2 linked regions of the Homo sapiens genome follow. The protein of the gene in region 2 purifies or fractionates together with the protein of the main gene of each other region. This does not show direct contact. Each region holds a gene or a part of one and is shown on either strand. Other genes may lie near its edges.

Region 1 (3,652 bases), on a different chromosome or scaffold from region 2:
TATCTAACATGGGTAAAGAACATTCCATGCTCATTCAGAATATATTCTGATGCAGACTCAATCTCTAAGATGTTTTCTCCATTCCAAAAAGTAACCTATCGCAGCATTATGTCCATGACTGGGACATCTTGACTTTCAAATTCACTGTGCAATTTTCAGCTAACAATGGAGGAGGTTCTTTAGTTTCCAGAGATAGGAACACTGAGAACAAGTACAAATCTAACTTTTGAAAAGATCAATCTGAAATTTGCAACCCTGCTTTTGATAATGAAATGACCATTTTCTGGGGACTCCTCATTTATAACATCTTTAAATTGCCAAGTTTAAAACAGAATGCTACAAATGATTCTAGAAATTTACCACTGCCCACTTAGGATTTGCAACTACAAAAGGGAAAAAACAACCCTCTTCCAGTCTGATTTTTCTTCATCTCTTATTCTTCTTTCCAAAAAACGAACAATTTCAAAAGGATACAATTCAAATGTACTACATTTTTAAGCCAGGCATGGTGGCTTGGGCCTGGGATCCCAGCACTTTGGGAGGCTGAGACAAGAGGATTGCTTGAGCCCAGGAGTTTGTGTCGAGGCTGCAGTTAGCCACCACACTTCAGCCTCGGTGACAGAGCAAGAAACAATCTCTTTTAAAAAAAAAAAAAAAGAAAAAAAAGTATATATATATATATCCCATTTCTTTTTTAAAAAAAGGTTAAAAACATACGTCAATCTCTTTAAAATGTATGTATGTGTCTGTGTGTATATATATGTCTCTTCCAATCTTTTTCTTAAAAAAAGTATAGAAATATATATCCCAAGCTCTTTCTTTAAAAAAAAAAGTGTGTGTGTATATATATACGTATATGTGTGTGTGTGTGTGTGTGTGTGTGTGTGTGTGTGTGTGTGTGTGTGTGTGTGTGTATTTGAGACTGGGTCTTGCTCTGTCCCCCAGGCTGGAGTATGGTGGCTCACTGCAGCACTGAACTCCTGGGCTCAAGTGATTCTCTTGCTTCACCCTTCCAAAGTGCTGGGATCACAGATACAAGCTACCACACCTGGAGAACTTTATATTTTTTGTAGAAATGGGGTCTTACTATGTTGCCCAGGCTGGTCTCTAACTCCTGGGCTCAAGCAACCCTCCTGCCTTGGCTTCCCAAAGTGTTGAGGTGTTGACATTACAGGTGTGAGACATCATGCCTGGTATATATATATACTTTTTTTTTTATTGAGATGGAGTTTCACTGTGTTGCCCAGGCTGGAGTGTAGTGGTGCAATCTCAGCTCATTCCAACCTCCACCTCCCAGGTTCAAGTAATTTGCTTGCCTCAGCCTCTTGAGTAGTTGGGACTAAGGGCATGCACTGCCATGACTGGCTAATTTTTTTTTTTTTTTTTTTTTTTTTTAGTAGAGATGGGGTTTTGCCATGTTGGCCAGGCTGGTCTCCAACGCCTGACCTCCTGGCCTGGCCTATATTTTTAATCTTATAAAACATTATCAGAATTTGGACATTCCTAGGCTGGGCATGGTGGCTCACACCTGTAATCCCAGCACTTTGGGAGGTCGAGGCAGGCGGATCACCTAAGATCAGGAGTTTAAGACCAGCCTGGCCCTGGCCAACATGGCAAAACCTCGTCTCTACCAAAAATACAAAAATTAGCTGGGCGTGGTGGTGTGTACCTGTAATCCCAGCTACTCAGGAGGCTGAGGCAGGAAGAATCGCTTGAACCAATGGAGGTTGCAGTGAGCGGAGACTGTACCGCTGCACTCCAGCCTGAGCAACAGAGCAAGACCCTGTCTCAAAAAATAATAATAATAAAATAAAGAATTTGGACATTCCTTAGCTTTCACAGATGTGTGACTGTTTACTTAAAAACCCATTATTTCACTTTGAAAATACATCATTTTCATTTTTCCAGTAATTGTATCTTTTTTTTTTTTTTTAAGGCAGGGTCTCGCTCTGTTGTCCAGGCTGGAGTACAATGGCTTAATCACCGCTCACTGCAGCCTCAACCTCCCAGGCTCAAGTGATCCTCCCACCTCAGCCTCCCAAGTAGCTGGGACTACAGGTGTACTCCACCACACCTGGCTAACTTTTGTACTTTTGTAGAGAGGAGGTTTCACCATGTTTCCCAGGCTGGTCTCAAATTCCTGGGCTCAAGCAATCCACGTGCCTTGGCCTCCCAAAGTGCTGGCATTACAGGCGTGAGTCACTGCACCTCGCCACCTTTTTCTAAGAAGAAAAACAGCCTTGATTAAGCCTTGATTTTGATAACAAAAATGACAGCAACTCCAAACAACTACAATCACAATTTTCAATATCTTTTGACTGATTGTTTTAGAGAACTAAAATAAAATCTTATTCTTATTTTTTAAATGTTTTGATTCCAGACCAAGGGTAAAAAACAAATACAACAAATATATAGACCCCACACTCCCTCTGGTGGACCTTCACTTTCATTAACCAAATGTTTTCCAAGAGGCTATAAGTCGGCCTGGCACTGTGGCTCGCACTTATAATCCCAGCACTTTGGGAGGCCAAAGCAGGAGGATCACTTGAGCTCAGGAGTTGGACACCAGCCTGGGCAACATAGTGAGACCTTATCTCTACTAAAAATTAAAAGTTTTAAAAATTAGCCAGGTGTGGTGGTGTGTGCCTGTAACCCCAGCTACTTGGGAGGCTGAGGTGGGAGGATCACTTGAGACCAGGTGGTTGGGCAGGAGGATCTCTTGAGCCTGGGAAGTCTGCAGTGAGCCATGATGACACCACAGCACTCCAGCCTGGGCAATAAAGCAAGACCCCGACTCAAAAAAAAAAAGACTAGAAGTAAATACTAAATTAAGCATAAAATGTAGGTTCTCAAACTACTATAAGAAGTACAAATTATTTTGAGTAGTGGAATTTTAGTGTTCTAAATATTGTTAAAATATCCTTATTAATCTGTTAGTAACCTGCTAGTACATATGGCCCCACTGTAAATTATTTTAGCCAGTCTCATTTGGCAGTACTGTCTTTTACATAGTAAATAAACATCTCATTTGCAAATTAAATTACACTTAAGTGGTTATTGTTTTAAATCAATAGTTATGTGACATACATACCACCACCACCCAGTCGCTACTGAATGTAGATTTAATTTTCTTTATACTTTTGGGGATATGATGTCAGAATTTTAAAATGCACTAAAATGTACTGCAGAAAAATTTAGAAATATAAAATACTTAAAAAACAAAATCTACTAATCAGCTAAGTTGTAAAGTTCAAATAGTTTCAGAATTATAAAATGCAGATATTTGTTAAACATGAATTACAAAATTTAGTGTGCCAATATGTATAATATAGATTATTCTTTAGGAATTATGAAAACTTATTTTAATTAATGGTCTTTAGAGGAATTCTTCATGCCGGGTACAGCAAGCATATTACTGTTAAATAAAGCAATACTAGGCTAGGCGCGATGGCTCACGCCTGTAATACCAGCACTTTGGGAGGCTGAGGCGGGTGGATCACCTGAGGTCAGGAGTTCGAGACCAGCCTGGCCAACATGGCAAAACCCCGTCTCTACTAAAAATACAAAAATTAGCCGGACATGGTGGCGCAGGCCTGTAGTGTCAGCTACTCAGGAGGCTGAGGCAGGAGAATCGCTTGAACCCGGGAGGCAG
Region 2 (3,652 bases):
GATCTCAGCTCACTGCAGCCTCTGCCTCCCGGGTTCAAGTGATTCTCCTGCTTCAGCCTCTTGAGTAGCTGGGATTACAGGCGCCCGCCACCACGCCCAGCTGATTTTTTGTATTTTTAGTAGAGACAGGGTTTCACCACTTTGGCCAGGCTGGTCTCCACCTCCTGACCTGAGGTGATCCGTCCACCTCGGCCTCCCAAAGTGTTGGGATTACAGGTGTGAGCCACCGCACACGGCCTGAGCCATTAGTTTCTGAGTAAAATATGATTATGCCCATTTTACAACCAAGAAAAACAGAAGAACCTAGAACTTAAGCTACCTGTCCCAGCAGTACCCCACAGCAGTTAAGAAAGCATACTCAAGTTTGAATGTCTGGCCTTGAATCCTGACTTGGTTACTTGCTTAGCTGTTTTACATTGGGCAATTTCACTAACCTTGGTACCTCAGTTGCCTCACCTATAAAATGAAGATAATCACGGTACTGACTTCACCTGATACATAGCAACCTGCAAGTTTCAGCTCTTATTTACAGGGTGAAACTGGGATTAAAACCTTCTGACTCTGAGTCTAGCATTTTATTGTATTGTGTTAACTTATATTTCCCCAATGCCAGCCAGCTCTCTGCCTCTTGACCTGGCGGCTCTCTAAACTCTGAGACCCAAGCCACAGAAGAGGATTCAGAGTTGCTTTTCTAAGGGCTGGGGAGGGAACGGCCTTGCTCTGCTCTGAAGGTTCCCTAGGCACTCGACAAGTTGGGGAAGTTTGCAGGCTGACAACCCATCTATTGCTAAGACCCTGGTCTATCCTATACTATTATAGTTCCTCCCTCAGCTTCTTCCTTCCCCTGCTTCCCCAATGCCCCTAACTAAACTCCCAGACAACTGTACTATTTTCTAAGATGCTACCACTTGTGACCCTGCATTATGTTCATGTGGGCATGCGTCCTCTGCATGCCTCGTGGAGAAAAACTCTGCATGGCCTCTTATAGTAGCCTGGCTCAAAGCCACTTGGTGTGCAGGCAAGATTACTTTCCAAGGCCTCGGTTCCCAGCCACCTAAAGGCATCGACATCAAACAATTGGTAAAGAACAATTAGTGTCTTATCAAGTTGAGTGTAAGCTAGGCTCCCGGCTCTCCCAAACTTCTAACTATTCTGTTATATGAGTCTTGAGAGTTTGTCCTGGATTAGTGTCTGTGAGTGTGTCCTCACTTGCTATTTGTCAGAAGAATCAGTGTGTGCCTTAGACAAAGCAACAGAATTTCTGACTGACAGTGACTCAGGCTTGCCTGCTGTCTAAGTGGCAGTAATCTTGAACTTTGTTTTAGGCACATTCAGGACAGGCATTCTCGCAATGGAAAACAAGGGGATAAAAGCAAACTGTTGATGCCTTCACCCCCCCAACCTTTATGTGAGAAGTATTTCAAAGTTAAAAACATAGGCACCAACCCTTCAACCAAATAATTTACAGGATTGTAAATGTGGTTTTAAAAAGCCTGGGAGGCTGGTTTGAGTGCTATCACTAACTCATTGTGGATAAAAGTTTTGTCCCTTTTCTGGGCTTCAGTTTCCTTCCTTGTGAAACAGGCAGCCAGGTCACACATCTAAGACCTCTTTCTATTCCTCCGAAGCTTCTGCTGTCTTAATGCCTCTGGGTAGGACGTGTTTGGTCTGTGCACAGAATGGAAGGAGACAATGCATTTAAGGCTATCAAACAAAATGGGGTAAGACCAAGAACAGCATTTCAAGACATTTCTCTTTTCGATACTGGATTATTTTACTGGCCAAATAGTGAAACGGACTCCCTTTGTCTCTTCGCCTATCCACAGTCCTAGGCACCCTACTTTCAAGCCCACCTTCTCCCTAACTCCTGATTCTCTTTCCTCTTAATTCTTGTGCAAAGCCCTTGCTTATGAGTTGACTGGTCATTTCCTCCAGTGATCTTGAATAGCATTTAAATCTTCTTCCAGTTCTCAAACTTTTCAAATGTAAGTTCCATTGGGGCAAGGGGTGGTGTGTTTTGCTTTGCTTTTTTTCTTTCCCTTCAAATACCACAGTAGGGACTCAGCATTAGGTTTAGTTGAGACTTCAAGGCAGATTCACACTTTTTGGCCTGTTCAAAATCATTCTGAGTTTTAGGAGGCAGGGCCAAGGGTGACTGTAAAGGACTTTTCTATTTAATGAGAGAGCTGAACCAGGTTATCTCTACGATTCCTTCCAGCTTTAACATTACTGGGTGGTATTTGCATGCTGTAAACCCAAGGCCCCAGGACAGATCAAGACCCCTAAATTTTGGAATCCAGAATAAGCAAAGTTTAACCTGGAGTAATTTTGGTATCTGTTCTCTATTTTAAGAAGCAAAAATGATTACCTATTTACTACTTGAAAAATCCACACATTGCAAGTCAGCTTGAATGTCATTTTCATAAGCAGAAACAACACATATTTTCTTCACTGCTCTGTCTCTGAGCCCTGAACACCGTAGAGGTTCAAATATTTTAAAGACTCCAAACAACTGAAAGGGACCAATCCAATCCAGTGTACGGCCTAAAGCAAAAGATTTCATTTTTCTAGGTCCCAGTTTTAGTTCACAAAGGGAGGATGAAAACACCAGTGTTTCTGTCAACTTGGTGTGCCTGACAACACAGAAAACAAGGTGTGTTCTATGATGAAACAAGTTTGGGAAACTTGAGCAAGAACAATGTGAATCTTGAAGGGGGTGAGGGTAGAAGAGTACAGAACATGGTGTGAACTTATATAAGGCAGTGAATTCCTCCCTATGTGGAGCACTTGCTGACATTAACAGTTTGCACAGTGACCCTATGTACCTAATGTCATAGGTACATACCCACTATCTTACAATAAAGGAATGCTCCTCACAGGGTTCAAACAATTTGCTCCATGTTTTGTGCAGTCAGTCCTGGGATGAGCCAGAGGGTCTAACCCCAAAGTCCATGGTACTAACCACTATGCTATGCTGCCATGGGGTCACTTTGGAATTTTGACAAATTCTTCAGGTGAGGAAAGTCCACATAGTATTTATATGTTGAGAGAGTAAGCAAGAGCTTCAAGCTGAGGTTGAAGGTTCGAGACTGGCGTCAATGAACTGAGGACACAAGGAATAAACATTCGGCAAGGCAAATTCCTACATCCCAAGGCAATCCTGTAGTAGGAAGTCCAGACCATTCATTGGCAGTAAAGGAGAAGACTAAGAGAAGTCTGAGAATAGAAAGACTTCAAAGTAAGTGATGCGCTCCTAGAATATAGGTAAGATAAACGAATCCCCTAGGGAGTCTTTTTTTTTTTTTTTTGAGACAGGGTCTTGCTCAGTCGCCCAGGTTATAGTGCCATTGCATGATAATGGCTCACTGTAGCCTCAACCTCCCAGGCTCAACTGATCCTCCTGCCTCTGCCTCTCAAGTAGCTGGGACTATAAGCCTGTGCCATCAGGTCCGGCTATTTTTTTTTCTATTTTTTGTGGAGACCAGGGTCTCACTTTGTTGCCCAGGCTGTTCCCAAACTCCTGGGCTCAAGCCATCCTCCCACCTCAGCCTCCCAAAGTGCTGGGATTACAGTCGTGAGCCATTGTGCCCTGCTGGAAGTCTTTTCAAAACAAAAACACTCACCCTGGGGAGAGGGTAGGCTTCTCAGAATG

Evidence for each region.
Region 1: the proteins of STK35 (region 2) and FKBP5 purify together in Homo sapiens (affinity purification with mass spectrometry; 2 studies listed by BioGRID and IntAct, with this or other methods). This does not show direct contact.

What each region holds. Positions count from the first base shown.
Region 1 is NC_000006.12:35,682,264-35,685,915, forward strand, and holds part of FKBP5 (peptidyl-prolyl cis-trans isomerase FKBP5), read right to left. Parts: intron 1-3,652. UniProt on the Homo sapiens protein: Immunophilin protein with PPIase and co-chaperone activities. Component of unligated steroid receptors heterocomplexes through interaction with heat-shock protein 90 (HSP90).
Region 2 is NC_000020.11:2,104,813-2,108,464, reverse strand, and holds part of STK35 (serine/threonine-protein kinase 35), read right to left. Parts: intron 1-3,652.